Linked DNA regions of Homo sapiens. The protein of the gene in region 2 interacts with the protein of the main gene of each other region in a pairwise test. Each region holds a gene or a part of one and is shown on either strand. Other genes may lie near its edges.

Region 1 (7,024 bases), on a different chromosome or scaffold from region 2:
AACACCTGTCATGTGTATCACCTTGGTGTTAAGAGCATTATAGGCCGGGCGCGGTGCCTCGTGCCTGTAATCCCAGCACTTTGGGAGGCTGAGGTGGGCGGATCACTTGAGGTCAGGAGTTCAAGACCAGCCTGGCTAACATAGTAAACCCCCGTCTCTACTAAAAATACAAAAATTAGCTGGGTGTGCTGGCGGGTACCTGTAATCCCAGCCTCCTGCTGGCGGGCGCCCGTAATCCCGGCCACTCAGGAGGCTGAAGCAGGAGAATCGCTTGAGCTGGGGAGGCAGAGGTTGCAATGAGCCAAGATCGTGCCACTGCACTCCAGCCTGGGTGACAGAGCAAGACTCCGTTTCAAATAAATAAATAGATTAATAAATAAAGTTGGGTAAACCTTTATTCAAATCCCAACCCCAGCATTTACTGAGTATCTAGCTTTGACTTTACTGTGCCTCAGTTTCCTCAATAACAGGAACTATAATTTTGAGAGGGTGATGTGAATTTTGCATCTCATACGATTACATAGGATTAAATGAGATAAAGTATGTTCACAGCCTGGTACATAATTGGTGGTCAGTAAATTATTATTATCACTTTTACTTTTTTCTTTTTTTGTTTTGTTTTGATTTTTTGTTTTTGAGAGAGAGTCTTGCTCTGTTGCCCAGGCTGGAGTGCAGTGGCACGATGTCAGCTCACTGTAGCCCTCCGCCTCCCAGGTTCAAGCCATTCTCCTGCCTCAGCCTCTTGAGTAACTGGGATTGCAGGTGCGCACCATCACACCCGGCTGATTTTTGTATTTTTAGCAGAGACGGGATTTCACCATATTGGCCAGGCTGGTCTCGATCTTTTATTTCTTAAATAAATAATCTATAAGGGCTGTAACAGTTTAAAGTTTATAATTTGGGCCAGGCAAGGTGACTCACGCCTGTAATCCCAGCACTTTGGGAGGCCCAGGTGGGTGGATCACCTGAGGTCAGGAGTTTGAGACCAGCCTGGCCAACATGGTGAAACCCCGTCTCTGCTAAAAATAGAAAAATTAGCCCGGTGTGGTGCCACATGCCTGTAATCCCAGCTACTTGGGAGGCTGAGGCAGGAGAATCGCTTTAACCCAGGAGGCAGAGGTTGCAGTGAGCTGAGATCGCGCCATTGCACTCCAGCCTGGGTAACAAGAGCAAAACTCGGTCTCAAAAACAAAAAGTTTATAATTTGGTTTGCTTTCATTATGCTTGCTTTCCTTATGGATGAATAAATTAATTCAGATTCATAGTCCTATTTTGGTGTCAAAAGATTTAACTATAGGTCAGGCATGAGACTGTCTCAAAAAAAAAGAACTATAGAAGGTAAATCATTTCAAAGAAATGTGGAAATTTGCATATAATCACATATTTATCAAGATATACAGTTTTTAGTATGTAGTACATTGTTTTCAAAATAATATATCTTAATTAGTTCTGTATAACTTTCCAATTGATTAAAGATCTGGTGCCATTGTATTATTCAGTACCAGAAATGAGCTGTATTTTTGCTTAATAACTTCTTTCATGTTTTACTTACAGGCATTTTTTACTGTCTACAGAAACTTATTGTAATTCATTTTTCCTCACTCCAGTAGTAAGAATTATACCAAGTAAGTGGACTGTATTGAAACTAATTAATTTTGTAACAGTTAATGAGAATTTAATTGGATAGTGGTTGCTGCATGTGTTGTGTTCTCAGTGGAACGTTGAATGTGACCTCATAAATAGGAAAATGATTTTTTTCTTGAAAATTATTTATATTCTGATCTGTGTGATGAGTACTTTTTTCTGGAAGCCAGGAGGCCGATACATATTTGTGACAATATTTTTTTAAAGGAAATGTCTCCGCCTTTAGCTTGAAAACTACCTAAAAATACTTCCAATGGTAGGAAATGTGCCTATAAAACTCCTAGTATGGTGCCATAGGCACAGTGTTTCTTTTTTTATATATACACAAAATAAAATGACTTAAACATGTGGTTTATTGTAATTATCCAGTTCTCACAATTTATATCAACATTTGAAAAAGAATTTTTTAACCTCCGTAAGAAAGAAAACAGAAATCAGTTTCTGCCTTGAAACCTGACTGGAAAACAATCTGAAATACAAACAGAGGCATCATTTAACACTTTTCTTATACCATAGATTTTCAGGTGGCTCACATATTTCATATTGCCAATAAATTCTTCAGTTAGAATTTTTATAACGTCATTAACAGTTGTTATTTGTGACATATTTGTTAATTTTTTCTCGTTTTTTAGATTGAAAAGATATGAATGAGTATCCTAAAAAAAGAAAAAGGAAGACTCTACACCCTTCTCGTTATTCAGGTCAGTGTATAATTATTTTAAAGTTGGGTATGGATTAATTCCCACAAAATTATATTCTCATCCATTTTCTCCTAAGTGATCAGATAAGACTTAAATATCTGGGTCAATATTTAGGTAAAACAACGGTTTAAATACATTATCTGAATATATATTCCTTATTGTCTACCATGTGCTAGGCACACATAAGAACTTTACAGACATTATATTATTCCTCACAGCTCTATGGGTTATAAATATTTAAAATTAGATAGCCAAGGTTATTTACTTATATAACATAATTGGGATTTGCATGTCTGATACCTAAGCTGTGCTTAAGACCCAATAATGACAACCTTGGTAGAAAATATTTTACATTATTGGGGAAAAAAGACTTTATCCTCTTTATTACTTTAGGAAATGTAAACTTTCATGCTGAATGTGTAATTTTTTTTTTTTTTTTTTTGAGACAGAGTCTCACTCTCTAGCCCAGGCTGGAGTGCCATGGTGTGATGTCAGCTCACTGCAACCTCTGCTTTCTGGGTTCAAGTGATTCTCCTGCCTCAGCCTCCCAAGTAGCTGGGATTACAGGCGTGTACCGCCACACCTGGCTAATTTTTTGTAGTGTTAAAGTAGAGATGGGGTTTCACCATGCTGCCCAGGCTGGATGACTGTGTAATTTTAGATCCTTTCATTGAGGTTGGCTCTGCTGTGTTGGCAGTATAAGAAAAGGGGTCTTTGTGGCCATCTCTAATACACCTCGCATACATTTACTTGGGACCATCTCAGTCTTACCTATTAGTCTACCCAGCCTACACATTCTTCATATCTGAAGAAATTAACCCTAGTATACTGCTTACTGGCCCTTCCTAGACAACACTTGAAATGACTATATTCAGAAGCCCTAAGTGGTCCTTACCATTTCCCCTATGTAACAACCTTTCTCTGCATGACATGGCACACCTTCCTGGTGTTTATTTCACTGTTTTGTGCAGTTAATACAGTGTTTATCATATATTTTTATTTTGTGTGATTCTGAGTATAAAACAAATGTATCCTTGTATATTTCAAAGTTGTTATGTTTTAGAGTATGTAATTTGTGGTTCTTTCAAAGTCCTATGTCAATATTGGATCTGAAATATAAAAGCTTTAAAAGTTGAAAATGTATAATATTTTCATTACAGATACTATAATTAACATTAAGAACATTTGTATAAGTTAGATAACGGGAAGTTTCTCATTAAATATGTATGTTTACTGTACTTGAAATATTTTTCATTTTATGTTCAGATTCCTCTGGAATAAGCAGAATTGCAGATGGATTCAATGGAATTTTCTCTGATCATTGTTACAGTGTCTGTTCTATGAGACAGCCAGATTTAAAATATTTTGACAACAAAGGTATATCTAATATTTTCGAAAATATGTTTCTTTAAACTGCTTTTACATTTTTTATTCCTTACTTGAAAATGTGGGTAAAATGTGGATTGATGATTTCAAAACAGACAAGTCTTTGAAATTTGTTACAATGTAAGAAAACAAAGTTGTATTTTTTTAAGAAAGCAAGTAATTTTAACTATTCTTTTTTTTTTTTTTTTTTTTTGAGATGGAGTCTCGCTTTGTCGCCCAGGCTGGAGTGCAGCAGCGCGATCTTGGCTCACTGCAACCTCCGCCTCCCAGGTTCAAGCAATTCTCCTGCCTTAGCTTCCTGAGTAGCTGGGGTTACAGGTGTGCGCCACCACGCTCAACTAATTTTTGTACTTTTAGTAGAGACAGGGTTTCACCATGTTGGTCAGGCTGGTCTCAAATTCCTGACCTCATGATCCGCCCACCTTGGCCTCCAAAAGTGCTGGGATTACAGGCTTGAGCCACCGTGCCCGGCTGTAATTTTAACTTTTAACATTATTTCTGACATATAAATAAAAAAGTGCACTCTCCTAAGTCCATTTTTTGAAGGGGGTGGGGTTAGGGGGAGACAGTCTTCATTCTGTCACCCATGCAGCCATGTCTCACTCCATGGATTATGGCTGACTGCATTCTTGACCTCTTGAGCTAAAGCAATCCTCCCACTCAGCCTTTTGAGTAGCTGGGACTACAGGCATGCACCACGATGCCTGGCTAATTTTTAAAAATTTTTTTGTAAAGACAGGGTCTTGCTGTGTTGCCCAGGCTGGTCTTGAACTCCTGGCCTCAAGCAGTCCTCCCATGTTGGCCTCACAGAGTGCTGAGATTGCAGGTGTGAGCCACGGCTCTCAGCCCTAAATCCACTTTAGTTGGTTAGGAATTGGTGGCAATGCAGGAGTGACTCAGAGTTGGAGTATTTATGTTGAAAGGTTAAGAATAGTGTTAGACACAGTTCTACTCAGCTATACCACATAGTGTGGAAGAAAAGAACAGAGGGTGATTTGGTATTTTTCAATGTTGGATCTTCTATTGGTTCCTCTGTTCTACAGCATTGGTGAATGATAACAATTTACAACTTGCACTTAAGTTAGAGAGTTAGAGACATCGGTATGAATTCCTGTTTAGCTTACTATAGATTCAGATGGCTACATACAGAATGCTTGTAGATATGTGTGTGTATATATATGTGGTACTGTACACACACACTTTGCTGTGTTAGCTGAGAGGGGCTAAAAGAAATGACACCCAGAAGCAGTGAGCATGAGCACATTCAGTGCCCAGCTCTTGGTTTCTAATGCCTCCTTGGGAAAATGGCTGATTCTAGGTCTGGGGCAGGAAATATACAAGATGAACCTGGAGCATTTTGTAGTGCTGGAAAATAGGAAAGTACTTAAAAAAACCTAAACACACGCACTTGACAGGGGTATGCCAAAGGGGCACACGTCAACTTAAAGAGCTCCCAACAGCCAAAACTGAAAACTATTTGGGGACAAAAAATTATAACCCAGAGTATAAAATAAATATCCATGAATTCATGCTGTTATAAATTATTAAATAGAGGAGATGAGGCAAATCTGTGCAGAAAAATTCCAAATTATTAGACTTCATCTTAGCCAAAAGGCCAAGAAGCAGTAAAACTCCAAATTATTTATGTAGCTACTCCTCCCTCTAGGAGGTGGAATATAAGTCTGCACTCCTTAAGCATGGTCTGCACATAGTGACTTCTTACAAAAGGTAAAGTATGGAAAGTAAAAGCACAACTTTAGGCCAGGTGCGGTGGCTCACGCCTGTAATCCCAGCACTTTGGGAGGCTGAGGCAGGCAGATCACCTGAGGTCAGGAGTTTGAGACCAGCCTCAACATGGAGAGACCCTGTCTCTACTAAAAATACAAAATTAGCTGGGCGTGGTGGTGCGTGCCTGTAATCCCAGCTACTCGGGAGGCTGAGGCAGGAGAATTGCTTGAACCTGGGAGGCGGAGGTTGTGGTGAGCCGAGATCGCGCCATTGCACTGCAGCCTGGGCAACAAGAGCGAAACTCCATCTCAAAAAAAAAAAAAAAAAAAAAGACAACTTTATAGTGTTGAAACCTGATAGAGACTTAGCCAGGTGATCAAGATCAACATCAACAACCATAAATCATATTGATAGTATGTACCCTTGATAAGAAGTGATGAAAATGGCAATTTACCTCTGGTCTATCTCCCAGTAATCCATAATTCCAGCGTAATCATTTTAAAAAAAAGAAAGCAGACAAATTCCATTAGCAAGGCATCCTACAGAATACCTGATTAGTACTCCTCAAGGAGTGAGAAACTGCCACAGCCAACAATAGCATAGAGAGACATGGCACCTTAATGGAATGTGGTATCCTGGAACAGAAAAGGGACATTAGGTTAAAAACTAAGGGCATTTAGATGACTTTATTGACTTTTATTAATAAGTTACCAGTATTGGTCATTAATTGTAACAAATGTGCCACACTAATGTTAGATGTTAGTAGTGGAGAAACTGGGATACATGGGACCTCTCCATACTATCCTCTCAGATTTTTCTGTAATTCTAAAACTATTCTAAAAAATAAGGTCTATTTTAAGAAAACATGATGGATGGGCTGAGTGTGGTGGCTCACGCCTGTAATCCCAGGTCTTTGGGAGGCCAAGGTGGGAGGATCGCTTGAGGCCAGGAGTTCAAGGCCAGCCTGGACAACATAGCAAGACCCCATCTCAAAAAACAAGAATTACCCGGGCTTGGTGGTGCATGTCTGTAGTCCTATCTACTCAGGAGGCTGAGGCTGAAGGATCACTTGAGCCCAGGAGTTTGAGGCTGCAGTGAGTGAGCCATGATCATGCCAGTGTACTCCAGCCTTGGCAGACTGAGCAAAACTTGGTCCCTCGCAAAATGTTGAAGCCCAGTTTTCACTATTAACCTGTATTTCAGTTTCCCCATGCTAACTTTGAAACACTGGGGCTGGCCTGAGGGTATAAAGGCTTATTCAAACTCAGTAATTTAAACTTAAAATCCTAAGGAACTTCAAAAAGTGTAATCTAGTCCAAATGGGGCATCAATTCTAAAGCATTTGCTTGTTTGAGCAGATTTTCTGTGTCTGAGGTATATAGATAACTTATCTTTTTATGACTAAATCCAAGTCCTTAGTTCCTGTTGGAATTCAAAATCATATTTAAAAATTGATGCTTTGTTCTATAATTAATGCTTTGATTGTATAAATAATAAGTATTCTTCCAAATCCCTTTTTACAGATGATGATTCTGATACCGAGACGTCAAATGACTTGCCAAAAT
Region 2 (7,429 bases):
GAAGCTTCAGGGAGGTGGAGGTGGTGGCTGTGGCAGTGGCCGTGGCTGAGGAGGAGGACACATGGAGCATGGCTAGGTGCTGCCTGGCCTGGGCCTCTAACTCAGGTCATCCACAGGGCTCTTTGTGATGGATGAGGACGCCACCCTCCAGGACCTTCCCCCCTTCTGTGAGTCAGACCCCGAGAGTACAGATGGTGAGTGTCCCAGGCTGTTCCCCTCCCGACCTGAGGGCAGGCACACGGCCGACACAAAGGCAGGGACAGAAGCTGAAGTCCACCCTCTCTTTCAGATGGCAGCCTGAGCGAGGAGACCCCCGCCGGCCCCCCCACCTGCTCAGTGCCCCCAGCCTCAGCCCTACCCACACAGCAGTACGCCAAGTCCCTGCCTGTGTCTGTGCCCGTCTGGGGCTTCAAGGAGAAGAGGACAGAGGCGCGGTCATCAGATGAGGAGAATGGGCCGGTGAGGGGCAAATGTGGGGAGGTAGGGAGGGCAGCTGGAAGGGCTCTGAGCCGCCTCCTCCAGGAAGCCCTCCAGCATGGATGCTGCTTTCCACCCATAAGCTAACTGAATCCTCCCCTCAACCTCAAGAGGCGAGTTCTTGGACACGAGCCTTGCAGTTTTAACAATTGCAGCCTTACCATGTGTCCTAGTGCCTTATAGAGAAGGCCTCTCCTTTCCAGGAGCGTCTCTATTTATAGAACACCTGCTCTGGGCAAGGCACAGGTGTTTTGGCATGCCCTCCAGTGGAGAAACTGAGGCTTGGAGGGTTCAGATCACCTCCCATCCCCACCCTGCACATTCCTAGCCCTTTGCAGAATTTGTCCCACCCCCTGGTCCCCTGTTCACCCCTTGTAGCAACCCCTGTTTGAAGCTCCTGGGCTGGGCTCTGCTGGCCTAGGTGGGTCCTCCTCACCCTTCACTGAGCCTCCCTGAAGCAGAGGGGAAACTGAGGCACTGAGGGGACATGTGACTTCCCTGAGAGGCAGAGCTGGGACTGGAACCCAGGTGTGTTTCAGGAAGGAGCTGTGGGCTTTGAGGGAGGAGGCCTGGGTCCCCACAGTCCCCCCCTCAAGCCTCAGTGTCCTTATATGCAAACCAGCAGTCACAGTGGTGACCTTTTCTGTGCATCCTCCCTCAATGAAGCAGTGAGCACTGAAGACCAGGAACAGGGCCTGGTGCGGGCGGGGTCCACCTGCTGCTGCTCTCTGTGCTTGCGACTCATGGCAACACAGTTAATTGAATGCTCTGGCCTCTTGCGTGCTGTGCCCGGGGGCTGGTCTCCCACTGGGCTCAGGTCCAGTTCCTGATCTGGGTCTCCGGGTCCCATCCTGCGAGGGGACAGGCCCAGCTCCGGGTGACGGGGGCTGTAGTGGAGGCAGTACTAGGTGCCAGAACTGCAGGCTCCTTGGCGGGGGCTGACACAGCGAGGGATCTTTTCTGTAGCGCAGTGGCCACATGATAAGGCAGTAACAGCTGATTATCTCAGCCCTCACAGAGACCCTGTTATCCGCCCCATTTTTCAGAAGGGGAGACTGAGGCCTAGGGAAGCAAAACCTCTTGCTCATAGTTTGTCAGCGGCAGAGGTCTGATTGGAACATGACTGAAACCCCAGCCCAGATCCTCAGACATGAGACGGTGCACTCAGCCTTAATGGCTAGCAGGCAACAGCACTTCCACTGTGTAGGAAGCAATGTCCTAGGCCAAGAAGGGGAGAGGGAGAGGGGCAGGTAGGCTTCGTGGAGGAGGTGTCTGAACCGGGTAGAAGGGTTCCTACGTGGAGCAAGACGGGGAGGGGCACTGCTGGCAGTGGGCATCGCAGGGCACAGGTGGCAGGGCAGGGACGTGCTAGAAGTGGGCTTGGAGCCCGGGTGCACCCCTGGACCGCGTGTGGGTGCAGGGGGATTGCCCTGCCGGCGCTGACCTCGCCCCGTCGCCGTCCCCGCAGCCCTCTTCGCCCGACCTGGACCGCATCGCGGCGAGCATGCGCGCGCTGGTGCTGCGAGAGGCCGAGGACACCCAGGTCTTCGGGGACCTGCCACGGCCGCGGCTTAACACCAGCGACTTCCAGAAGCTGAAGCGGAAATATTGAAGTCCAGGGAGGGAGCGCCCCGGGCCGCGTCCGCCCCGTCCCACACTACGCCCCCGCCCCACTCCCGGGGCCTGCTAATCTGAGGCCGATCCGGGACCGGCCTCCTTGCGTCTCCCATTCCCAAGATTGTCCCGCCTCTGCCAATCCCCGCCGTCCTTCCAGCCCACGACCTGCCGCGCCGAGGAGCGGCATCTGTCCCGTTTCCCGATTGGGTCTGTCGTCTCTCTCCGCCTAGCGACAGATTCCTTCTATTAAGGGATTGGCTCGCTGAGTTCTAAGCTCTAAATGGGTCAACTCCTTTGTTTTCCGCCTAGCGACAAGGGATTTGCTCGCACGGCATTGGCTCCATCCCCTAGTCGCTGGACAGCTCTTTTTTTGATTGGCTCAAATCCTGTAAAGGGCTTGACCAGTCTCTACATAGTCACCGTCCGCTTTTCCTGAGTTCTCCCTCCCAATTGGCTCCAGCTTCCTGGGGGCGTGGCCAAGCCCTCCTCTTCCCAGAATTGGCCCGGGGCCTTCAATTTACGTTCTTTACACTACGGGGACTGGGGTCGTCTTTGCCCACGTCCCGACAACTTGTTCCCTGACCCCCTCAGGGATGGCCCCAAACTGTCCCTGCCTCTGGCACCCCCTTTCATTGGTTCCATCCATCCCCACAACAGCCTGCCAATCGAAGCCCGTCCCTGCATCCAGGATGGTACCAGCTCCCGCCCCTCGCCCCCCACCTCCACAGGTGCCTTAAAGGGCCCTCGTCCACCCAAGGTGGGGGGCAGGGGCCCTCACTCTCCGGCCCTGGTGTGGGGGAGAGAGTGAGGGGTTGGGGGATCGGCAGTTGGGAGGGGCGCTCTGAGATTAAAGAGTTTTACCTCTGAGATAAATGTGAAGTGTGTTGTGAGTGTTCATTCAACATTTTCTGAAACCGAATGGCAGCGTCTGATTATCAGTGAATAGCTGGGGGTTGGAATTACTGTGCCCATTTTATTTACTTTTTTGAGACAGGGTCCCACTCTCGCCCAGGTTCAAGCGATTCTCCTGCCTCAACCTCCCGAGTAGCTGGGATTACGCGCCACTGCCGCCCGGGTAATTTTTGTATTTTCAGTAGAAACAGGGTTTCATCATGTTGGTCAGGATGGTCTTGAACTCCTGACCTCAAATGATCCACCCGCCTTGGCCTCCCAAAGTGCTGGGATTACAGGCGTGAGCCACGGCGCCTGGCTTTGTGCCCATTTTATAGATATGAAGACACAGGTTCATGGGGTGGAGGAGAGCATCCCAGTCTTATGTGACCATGGAACCCAATCTTGAGGAGGTGAGTGTTGGAGACAGAGCCCACATATTCACCAGCAAAGCCAGGAACTCCAGCCGGGAGTCTTCTATTATAAAAGGACTGGAGCAACTGGGCTTGGTGCCTCACGCCTATAAGCCCAACACGCTGGGAGGCCAAGGCGGGAGGATCACATGACACCAGGAGGTCGAGATCAGCCTGGGCAGCACAGTGAGACCCCTTCTCCAAAGGGAAAAAAAAATGGCTGGAGGTTAGAAAGCAGGTGGAACCTCGTCCGAAATTAGGACTAGGTAAACGTAGTCCCACCAGACCACTACCGAAAGAATGCTAACACTAAATAAGACTTAAACGGATCTGAGCACTTTGGGAGGCCGAGGTGGGCGGATCACGAGATCAGGAGATCGAGACCGTCCTGGCTAACACGGTGAAACCCCGTCTCTACTCAAAATACAAAAAATTAGCTGGGCGTGGTGGCGGGCGCCTGTAGTCCCAGCTACTCGGGAGGCTGAGACAGGAGAATGGCGTCAACCCGGGAGGCGGAGCTTGCAGGTGAGCCGAGATCGCGCCACTGCACTCCAGCCTGGGCGACAGAGTGAGACTCCGTCTCAAAAAAAAAAAAAAAAAAAGACTTAAACAGGGCTCACTACCACCCATTTTTTAAAGCTTTTGTCACGTGTTAGCTCCTTTAATCGTCATGGTAACCCCACGAAGCGGAAACGATTATCCTTTTTATAGATGAGGAAACTAGAACATCGAGGGTGAAGCCAAAGAAGGACTTAGGGGCGCTGTCGGGGGCGGAGGTTTCCTCGACTGACAATGACCATCAGATGGGAAAAAAATCTTCCTCCCTGGGATGAAAATTAGAAGTCAAGGTGGAAAGAGGCAAATCTGCTAACGGAGGATCCAGTCCCCGCTACCGGCCTGAGCCTCGCGTTGCAGCAAGAGAGATGAAGGTCAGGGCTGCCGAGAGACCCTGGGGGCCGGGAGTCGGGGAAGGGGCGTGGCTGCTGTGGGAGGAGGCCAGGCCCCGCCCCCCACCCACGAGGGGACGAGTCATTTCCGTCCGCCGAGGAACCGACCGCCGCCGGCCGGGTTGCAGGCGGGGCACCTCGGGCAGGACCTCCCTGGTCGGAAGTGGCCGTGAGCCCAAGCCGCGGTCCCGGGTGAGTACGGGGCGGGGCGGAGGCATGTGCGAGGCTCTCTGCCTGTACGCTGGAAAGTGGGGATTGCAACTCGGGGAGGGATGGAGCACGCGTCGTCGCCTGGGAAACGGGTCGACCCGCGGAAGGCGAGCGGGTGGGACTTCCGGAGCAGTTAATGGTGGGGAAACTTTCTAGTGGATGTGGGAGGAGGCGGGACTTCCTGCAGCAAATTGGGGCTGTGCGCCGCTCAAGCCCGTTTACCTGCTCCCCAGGCCGGCACCCAGGATGGGCGAGGTGGAGGCCCCGGGCCGCTTGTGGCTCGAGAGCCCCCCTGGGGGAGCGCCCCCCATCTTCCTGCCCTCGGACGGGCAAGCCCTGGTCCTGGGCAGGGGACCCCTGACCCAGGTTACGGACCGGAAGTGCTCCAGAACTCAAGGTGAGCGGGGCCTGAGCTGGAGGGGGTGTGGCCTGCTGCAAAAGCGGGAACAATCCAGAGGGACGCTTGGCTGCTACGCGGGATTGCAGTGGTGCAGCCAGCCCCGAAGTCGGAAGGTGCTCTCTAGGGAGTACAGGAAGATAAAGTTTGTGCTTGATTTAGAATTAGCTAGATCCTTTGGGGGAGAGGGGATCGAGCCGATTTAGGGAGGATGTTCACTGCGCGGATGATGCTCAGGCCATCGGGAAATCCAGAAACAGGCGACGACCTTCGTCAAGAGAAAAATGATCCTGTGGAGAAAAGTAAATGTCGCTAGGTTGGGATGGATGGTAACAGGCCAAGCCCCGGACCTATATCTAGCCACATTTTTTGTCAAGGAGGAAACCAATTCTGTAGAGAAAAGTACCTCCCTGTCCCTTGCAAGGACCAGTGTCAGGCAATCCTAGTGCCACTATCTGGCTACTGCATGTCAAGGAGCCAATCCCATGTAGAAATAAACTGCCTCTTACTCCCTGGATGCTATAGCCTGAAGCAGGCCACACTCCCCAGAAATGAGGGACCCAATCACACAAGGATGCAAATCCTGACTCCACCCCTCCAATCCTCAGTGGAGCTGGTCGCAGATCCTGAGACCCGGACAGTGGCAGTGAAACAGGTATCAGTGCCTCTGCAAGGGCCAGCAAGGCCTGGGGATGGGATTTGGGGAGGAATTGCAAGCCGTCAGTGAAGGGGTACATTAGGAAAATCTGATTGGGGCCGGGCGTGGTGGCTCAAGCCTGTAATCCCAGCACTTTGGGAGGCCGAGGCGGGCGGATCGCTTGAACCCAGGAGTTCGAGACCAGCCTGAGCGACATGGTGAAACCTGTCTCTCTAAAAAATTAGCGGGAATGGTGGCGCGTCCTTGTAGTTCCTAATCGGGAGGCTGAAGCGGGAGGATCCCTTGAGCCCAGTAGGTCAAGGGTGTAGTGAGCAGTGATCACCACACTGTACTTCAGCCTGGGTGACAGAGCGAGAACCTGTCTCAAAAAAAGAAAAGAAAAAATATGGCTGGGAGAGAAGGGGATGTGTCCAGTAAAGAAAGAAGTGTTGCCTGTTTCAGTGGGGTGGGTACCTGTCCAAGACCTTAGAAATTGGACAAGGCGGCCAGGCGCGGTGGCTCACGCCTGTAATCCCAGCACTTTGGGAGGCTAGGCGGGCGGATCACCCGAGATCAGGAGTTTGTGACCAGCCTGGCCAACATGGCGAAACCCCATCTCTACTAAAAATACAAAAATTAGCGGGGCATGGTGGCGGGTGCCTGTAATCCCAGCTACTCGGGTAGCTGAGGCAGGAGAATCGTTTGAACCCAGGAGGCACAGGTTTCAATGAGCCAAGATTGCACCACTGCACTCCAGCCTGGGCGACAAAACAAGCCTATATCTCCAGGGGAAAAAAAAAAAAAAAAAAAAAAAAGATTCGGACAAGGCTGAAAACCTGTAACCGTTCCAAAGCCCGTTCCAAAGTGAAGAGGTGGGGCCTAAGGGTCTGATAGTGGTGGAGAAGGGCTGATTTTTCCGCTGGGTATTTGATTGGAGGAAGCTCCCGGTGGGGGCGGAGCCAGTCCCAGCTCCTCCCTCTCTTTCTGCAGCTGGGAGTTAACCCCTCAACTACCGGGACCCAGGAGTTGAAGCCGGGGTTGGAGGGCTCTCTGGGGGTGGGGGACACACTGTATTTGGTCAATGGCCTCCACCCACTGACCCTGCGCTGGGAAGAGACCCGCACACCAGAATCCCAGCCAGATACTCCGCCTGGCACCCCTCTGGTGTCCCAAGATGAGAAGAGAGATGCTGAGCTGCCGAAGAAGCGTATGCGGAAGTCAAACCCCGGCTGGGAGAACTTGGAGAAGTTGCTAGTGTTCACCGCAGCTGGGGTGAAACCCCAGGGCAAGGTGAGGGCCACGCCGAGGGCTGAGGGAGCCGCCACAGACTGGGACCCAATCCCACGTTTGTTGCGTGCTCTCAACTTTTTAGCCTCTACTTACTTTTCTGAGAAATGGGCCTAATGATAAATGCAGGGATCGTTGTAAGCAGTTAAGCAGTGGGGAGAATGATATATGTCAGCTCCTGCGTTACCCACAGTGACCACCCAGTAATCAGCAATGACCATGACTGTCTCAGTAGGAGCTATTACGATGAGGATTTTTTATGTCCAGAGAGACTTGAGTTCAAATGCTGTTACCACCACATTCTGAGTCCCATGTGTCTCATCTCTACGATGCTGAATCCATAAAAAAAGCACGTGGCATAGTTCCTGACATGCAGTTAGCACCCAAAGCTTTGCTCCTGCTTTTATTTTCACGGTTATTAGCCCACCGAGGTGGTGAAGGCCAGGGGAAGAAGGAGGCTGGGTAAGACATTAACCCCCATTTTAAAGACTGTAATCCTGGGGCTGGCGTCATAAGGAGTAACAGGAGACAGTAAGGTTAAGATGTCGGGCCC
Region 3 (7,024 bases), on a different chromosome or scaffold from region 2:
GTCAATTTTTGCAAAAAACGCAGCTGGAATTTTCATAGCAAAAATGTAGGTCAATTTGGAGTATACTACTATTTAACAATATTAAATATTCCAATCCATGAACATGGGATGTCTTTCCATTAATTTAGGTCTTCTTTAATTTCTCTCAACAGTGGTTTGTGGTTTTCAATGTACAAGTCTTGTACTTCTTTTATTAAATTTAGTATTAAGTGTTTTATTTTTTAGATGCTATTGTAAATTGTTTTTCCTAATTTTGTTATTTTGAACTTCTAGTCCATTGAAATACAATGGATTTTTGTATATTGGTCTTACATCTTGCAACTTTGCTAAATTCATTTTTTAGTTCTAATAGTTTTTTAAATGGATTCCTTAGGATTTTCTATATACGAAAGCATGTAATCTGAAAAGAGAGGTAGCTATAACTATTTATTTCCAATCTGGGAGCCTTCTATCTCTTTTTCTTGCCTAATTGCCCTGGCTAGAATCTCCTATACCGTGCTGCCTAGAAATGGAAAGAGCAGATACATTCAGTTTTCCACCATTAAATATGAGGTTAGCTGCAGATTTTTCACAAATGTATTTTATCAAGTTAAGGAAGTTCCTTTCTACTTGTCATTTGTTGAGTTTTTATCATGAAATGGTATTGGTTTTTTTTTAAATGCTTTTTCTGCATCTATTGAAATGGTTCATATAGTTTCAATGTTTGTTCTATCAACGTGGTGTATTATATAGATTGATTTTTGTATGCTGAATGAACCTTTCATTCTTGGGATACATCCTACTTGTTCATAATGTATAAATAATCCTTTTTATATGTTGCTAGATTTATTTTGCTAGTGTTTTGTTGAGGATGCTTCATCTGCATTCATAAGTGATAACAGTCTGTAGTTTTGTGATATCTTTGGTTTTGGTATTAGGGTATTGCTGGCTTCACAGAATGAATTGGAAAGAATTTCCTCCTCTTCTACTTTTTGGGGGAGCTTGTAAAAGACTGGTATTAATTCTTCTTTAAATGTTTGGTAGGATTTACCAGTGAAATTATCTGAGCCTAAGCTTTCCTTTGTGGGAAAATTTTAAATTACTAAGTCAGTCTCTACTTGTTATAGGTCTATTCAGATTTTCTATTTCTTCTTGAGCCAGATTCAGTAGTTTGTGTCTTTCTAAGTATTTGTCCATTTCATCCAGGTTATCTAACTTGAGGGCACATAATTATTCATAGTTATTTCCTTATAATTTTTTTTCTGTAAGGTTGGCAGTAAGGTCCCCTGTGTCATTCCTGATTTTAGCAATTGGAGTCTTCTTTTTTCTTGGCTTTACCATCCTTTTTATAATAATAACCTTCCTCCTAACTAGCACTCCTGAGTCTTCTTAATTATTCTCAGAGGTATTAATCACCTTCTACCCTATCATATAATTTTTTTAGTATTTATGTTTATTGCCTGCCTCTATCCAGCAGTATATAAGCTCCCTAAGGGCAGGCATCCTTGACTGCTTTGTTCACTACTGTTTCCCAAGCACCTATGGCACATGGTAAGTACAGGCAACCAGACTTGCTGAATAAATGAATAAGTCTTCAGGAGAGCAAAAGAAATCTGGAACAGACTAAGACAGCTATGACTGTAACTATTATCCTTAAAAGAAACCAGGAAAAATGAAAAAAAAAAAAAAAAGCATGGTGATTTTGAAGCTCTGGCCCTGTGTTGTCCAATACTGTGGTCACTGTCACCATGTAGTCATAAGAACCTGGTCCAAACTGAGATGTGCCGTAAGGGTAAAATACACACCAGATTTCAAGACGTAGTACAAAAAGGAATGCAAAATAGCTTAATAATTTCTGTTTTGATTACATGTTGAAATGATTTTTTAATTTTTGTACAGATGGGGTTTTGCCATGTTGCCCACGGTCTCTAACTCCTGGGCTCAAGTGATCCACCCACCTTGGCCTCCCAAAGTGCTGGGATTACAGGCACGAGCCACCGCACCAGGCCTCTGAATGATATTTTGGATATAAAGTTAAATAAATATATTTTTAAAGTTCCTTTCACCTGTTTCTTTTTTTTCTTTACGTACTAGAAAATTTTTAATCACACATATGGCTCAACTTTGTATCACATTTTATCTCTTCTGGACAATGCAGCTCTCGACAACTTGGATGGGGTGGGCGGTGGGGTAGTAATGTCATTGTGAATGTAGAGAAAATGAAGGTAAACTTCAAATTCATGCCTAGGTGGGCTCTGAAAGAACCAAGGGTTATATGAAGGAGTGTGGGCTTAGGCGAGTGTCTGGCCTCAGGTGCAGACTCCTCTGCAGAGTCTAGGTATGCAGTGCCCATTGGAATCACCTGGGAGCTTTTAAAAACTGCTGATACCCCATTTCCCTAGTGTCTGGCTAAATGCGATGGGGCCTGAACACTCCTCAGGGGCTTCCCATGTGTGGTTGGGGTTGAGAACCACCACATGGTCATCTTCTTTGGGAGGGCCTGCTCCTAACCAGACTCCTACCCTTTGCCCAGAAAGCCCCTAACTAATGGCCTGGATCAAACTCACAGACGCTGAGAATCAGGCAGCACCTCAACAAACAAGAAGTCATGTGAACAACCTCATTAAGAAATTAGCTGAAAGCTGCAAGCCTCTTGGAGTCAAGCTCCATGACAGACATATAAGTGCTGACAGCCCTGCTACTGCATTTCACCGGGTGACAAGACTGTCTACCCAGACTGGACATCAGAATACCCGCAAGACCTACCTGCAGAGCCACCCAATACCTCTTATAAGGCCCTCATCTTTTACAGGGTGGGTGTGCCACTGCTCTGGGAAGCAGTCCCAGGTGCAAGGCCTGAGTGACCCAGACCATTGCTGAGTCACTGTGGAGCACCTACTGTGTGCCAGGCACTGTTCTCAGCACTTGAATTCAGGGTGTGTTGGGTGACAGAATCAAGGCTCCTCAGCTCCTTGCTGGAAACGGCACTCACTGGGATGTGCTTGACACCCAGAGGGCATTACAGCAAAAGGCATAACACCTGCAGTACTTCATTGTAAGGGCGACAGCAGCTCCTGCCCTCCAGGCTTCTCTTGCTGCTCACAAAGTGAGGAAACAAGGACTGTGGGTCCCAAATTCCACCCTGTACAAGTGTGCCATTATGCTTCCTCCCATAAAATCTTCTTAAATCTTTGCCTGGTTGTTGCCAATCTGTTCTAGAATTCAACAAAAGCTTCTGTCTGGCTTAACAAAGAATCATAACTTAAGTTATTTTTGGATAATTATGTCAATACAAAAAGAACTATGTCCACCAGGAACTGAGCCCTCAACAAGTGACCCTCTAACCCAGGAGACAAAAGCCACCCAAAAGTTTGGCAGCTAGCAACACCACCTTTCTCTAACATAAAAGGATGTTTTCATTTTAAATAAATTCAAGTTTTTCTATGAATAAAATATACATATCTGTGTAATATGCCAATATGATAATTTTTTAAAAACCAAGTTGATACATAATGCATTTTTATGTTTCTACACTAACAAAGTGACTTGCAGCTGTAAAAGATGCTTTAAAAATAATCAAATCAGATTCAATTTTTGTGGGGGAAGAGAGAGAGAATTAAATTTTTTGAAAATATATTTAAAATCTCCAGAAAGGCCACATCTCTTGCCTGGATGAGGGAGGTGGCATCACGGAACACAGGGAAATGGGAGTGGTCTTCCCAGGGACAGACATTGCACACTTATCTCCACCTGGTCTCTTCTAGTAAATTACTGTTAAATTCTAGGGTGGCTCAATATAGACTCTTTAAAGGCCAATGGAGCAAAAATGAGGGAAACATCCCTGTTAGAATTTTTAAGTAGAAGATACAAAACCTAAACATTGCATATCTCTCCCCTCTGCTCTTCGGGATTCCTAGAAAAGGGGGATGGAAAGATGGGAATAGGTCCTTCAGTTCTTTCAAGTGAGACCTGAGACATCCTTAGTCCTGTGGCCTTTGACCGCGGCAGGAGTCCACTTGCACCCACCTCCACAGGCCCAGCCCCTGCAGCTGGTCGTGCTGAGAACACAGCTTTCCTTCACAACAGTTGGGCCCTCCTAATGACCTTTCAGGCCCTGATTTCAAATATAGCATCCTATTATATATCCCATCACACTTGCTAGAGGATGGGTCCCAATTTTTGGTTTAAAAAATGTGGCCAACGCGTATGCACACATTTCTCTGCTAAGAATTGGAAGGCACTTAGCTGAAGAAAAGACTTACTGACACGGGGGGTCGTCATGAAAGTGTTGGGCAAACAGATTGCAGAATCACATATATGGTGATTCCATCTGTGTTTTGAAATCATCTATATCTGCTATATATGTAGATGTGTATATATGTACACACACACATATCCTCATACTGACATTAAAATTAAGAGGCCAGGTACCTCTGGAGAGTGAGGGAACTTGAGTGTAAAGGAGTCACATTTTACGGCACGTACTTCTGTATTACTTGGTGTGTGTGTGTATGTGTCTGTGTGTGTTTTACAAGATCATATTGCCCTGGTAATTTAATTAATAAAATAAAAATTTCTAGTCTTGCTGGTGTCATATGGAGTCAGAGTGTTGGTTGTCTTTGATGACGAAACGAAGTAACATCTTCACAAAGGGGAACCTAGAGGTAGGGGGCCCTTGGTTTGGAAAAGCACAAATACATCATGGTGAGCAGCCGGCCAAGGACAGGTGCCCAAAAGCCTCAGGTCAGAGTAGACCACAAGCTGGCCATGAGTCAGCCAGTGGAGTCACAGCATTTTTAAAGCACAGAATAGAGTAGGGTAATGAGCTTCTGAGAGGAGCAGAATGTGGATTCAAATCCTGACCCTGTGTGACCTTTCCTGGGGAATGGGGCTTCTCTGTGCCTCAGCTACCTCTCCTGTAAACTTGGGATGATTACAGTACCTACTTCACAGATCTAGCGCGTTAATATAATAAGCACCATTTAAGCGCTAGCAACTGTTACCAGAAAAGAAAAGTCCTGGTAGCAAGCATGCAGATATATTCTTAGCTCTCAGCAAAGTAGGTTATGGTATAAAAATACCATTAAATAGTAACTAAACTAGCATCACCTTAATGCACATCTTGCCAGCAATCTCAGCATGTGCGACTTCTTTTTAAACTACCCTACATTAAGGAATCAAGACCAGGAGGACTCTTGCTGGCCTCCTGGGAGCCAGGCCGGAAGGCAGAGGCCCACCCAACTCACCCCTTCCCCACCTCGGGCCAGGCACTGGGGACACAACCATGGCAGGGAGCCGGACCTCCGCCTCTCTGTGGGTAAGCTGTCCAGCACATCAGATGGGGCAAAGTGCCAGGGAGAAGACAAGCTAGGGGGAGGGGCAGGGAGCAGTGGGGAGGCAAAAGGAGAGCCAGGGCAGGGGGCATCTGGGAGAGCCTGCTGAGCAGCCCAAGGGAGTGAGCTGTGAGGGGTCAGGGGAAGAGAGGCAGCTTGGCCAAGGCCCCCGAGGCAGGGAGTGCCTGGTGTGCTCTGGGGAGAGAGAAAGCAAATACGATGATCCCTCCTCCTCCATTCCTCTCTTCCCTGGCAACCGGCTCAGAGCTTGGAGACTCAAAAATTGATTCGCTCTGAATTTCCTAAGTTTATCTATTAACTACCTAACAGGCCATTCGCTTGTTCACAGTGTGCCTCTCGGCAGAAGGCATCCGCCAGCTGACAGTGATGCCCCCGCGAGCGGTCAGGCCACACACACCCCAGGATATAGTCGCTTGCTGGCGACTGGGGTACCACTGGATGGAGTCAAGGACATATCAAGGTCAGTTTTGGGCCTATCTCAGGTTTAGTGGGAGAGATGGGAGGGGTGGGAGATGCCCTAGACTGGAGCTCAGGGGCCATTCTTGCTGCCTGGGCTTGGGCAAGTTGCCAATCTTTCCTGAACTTCGGTTCTTTGTCTGTAAAATGGGGCTGGGGAGAAGGGCCTTTCTGGACAATTGGAATCAAATAAAACCAAACATTTAAAGTAATGTACACATTAGGTGTTGTTACAACATGGCCCAGCCCTAGCTGCCATCTCCGCCAAAAAAGGAGGGGCCCATGAACCCCTGAAATGAAATCCAAAACCTCGTGGGAGATGCTTTCTTCTAGGGAGATCTCCATGTTTGAAAAGAGACAACTCCCCAAAAATGGAAGATTCACGAGGCTGAATACAAAATGTGAGACCTCTTCCTACCCAACAAACGGTCGACACTGACAACCCATCAACACTGACAACCTGCCAACCTGAGGAATGGCAGCACCCAGGGAAAGGGGCGGCCCCAACGCTGCTGTGTGAGTGGACACTGCAGGGAGAGTGGCGGCACCTGCAAAGACAGAAGACTCGAGGACCCTCCTCGGCAGCCCCACTGCCAGGGACACACCCTAAAGAAACTCTCACACCTGCGCCCCAGACGCATTCAGGGCCCGGGCCGTGACGGTGCTGGCCACAGTGTGCTGAGTGACAATGGAACACAGGAGACAACCTAGATTTCCATTGGGATGGGGGCACGCAGGACAGTGTTCACACTACAGGTCGCCACGCAGCAGCCTGCGATCAAACACATCGACGAGCACAGGTGTCAACAAGACTGTTGAGTGAAAAGTACAAGTTCCAGGTTTTTTATGTAAAGTTAAGAAAAACACCCACACAAAACAATCCTATATATTAGTTATGGATACTTATATCCATGTGTAAATGTACCCGAAAGAGCCTGGGAGGAAAAATACAAAAGCAGTAGTTGGAAGGAAATGGGTTACTTAATATTTCTTTGTAATACTTCTTATAATTTTTTTAAAAAAGGACTTAAAGCCAAAATGACAAAAGAGTAACCATTTTCAATTCTGTGTAGAAGAGATACTGTGTTCATTTTATTATTTCTGGGATTTTTCTGGATTTTTAAAGTTTATCCAATATAAAAAAAATAAAAACTGCACTGTTGGCTGGGCCATGCCGGGCTGAGGGCTTCCTTGCCTTGCTCTGTACCTGCTCCCACATGGGCCACCAGGCTAGT

What was found. The genes of interacting proteins can lie anywhere in the genome.
Region 1: the proteins of PNKP (region 2) and ZNF639 interact in binary tests that used the Homo sapiens proteins (3 or more experiments, as listed by UniProt).
Region 3: the proteins of PNKP (region 2) and CAMK2B interact in binary tests that used the Homo sapiens proteins (3 or more experiments, as listed by UniProt).

The regions. Positions count from the first base shown.
Region 1 is NC_000003.12:179,326,007-179,333,030, forward strand, and holds part of ZNF639 (zinc finger protein 639), read left to right. Parts: intron 1-958; exon of another isoform or gene 959-1,338; intron 1,339-1,554; 5' UTR 1,555-1,625; intron 1,626-2,276; 5' UTR 2,277-2,287; coding exon 2,288-2,345; intron 2,346-3,611; coding exon 3,612-3,722; intron 3,723-6,982; coding exon 6,983-7,024. UniProt on the Homo sapiens protein: Binds DNA and may function as a transcriptional repressor.
Region 2 is NC_000019.10:49,864,577-49,872,005, reverse strand, and holds the start of PNKP (bifunctional polynucleotide phosphatase/kinase), read left to right. Parts: upstream 1-4,429; 5' UTR 4,430-4,537; intron 4,538-4,788; 5' UTR 4,789-4,801; coding exon 4,802-4,952; intron 4,953-5,560; coding exon 5,561-5,607; intron 5,608-6,579; coding exon 6,580-6,879; intron 6,880-7,429. Other genes in the region: AKT1S1 (proline-rich AKT1 substrate 1), read left to right, coding at 117-194, 290-459, 1,946-2,089. UniProt on the Homo sapiens protein: Plays a key role in the repair of DNA damage, functioning as part of both the non-homologous end-joining (NHEJ) and base excision repair (BER) pathways.
Region 3 is NC_000007.14:44,315,595-44,322,618, forward strand, and holds part of CAMK2B (calcium/calmodulin-dependent protein kinase type II subunit beta), read right to left. Parts: intron 6,962-7,024; exon of another isoform or gene 6,014-6,961; intron 5,794-6,013; exon of another isoform or gene 5,675-5,793; intron 1-5,674. UniProt on the Homo sapiens protein: Calcium/calmodulin-dependent protein kinase that functions autonomously after Ca(2+)/calmodulin-binding and autophosphorylation, and is involved in dendritic spine and synapse formation, neuronal plasticity and regulation of sarcoplasmic reticulum Ca(2+) transport in skeletal muscle.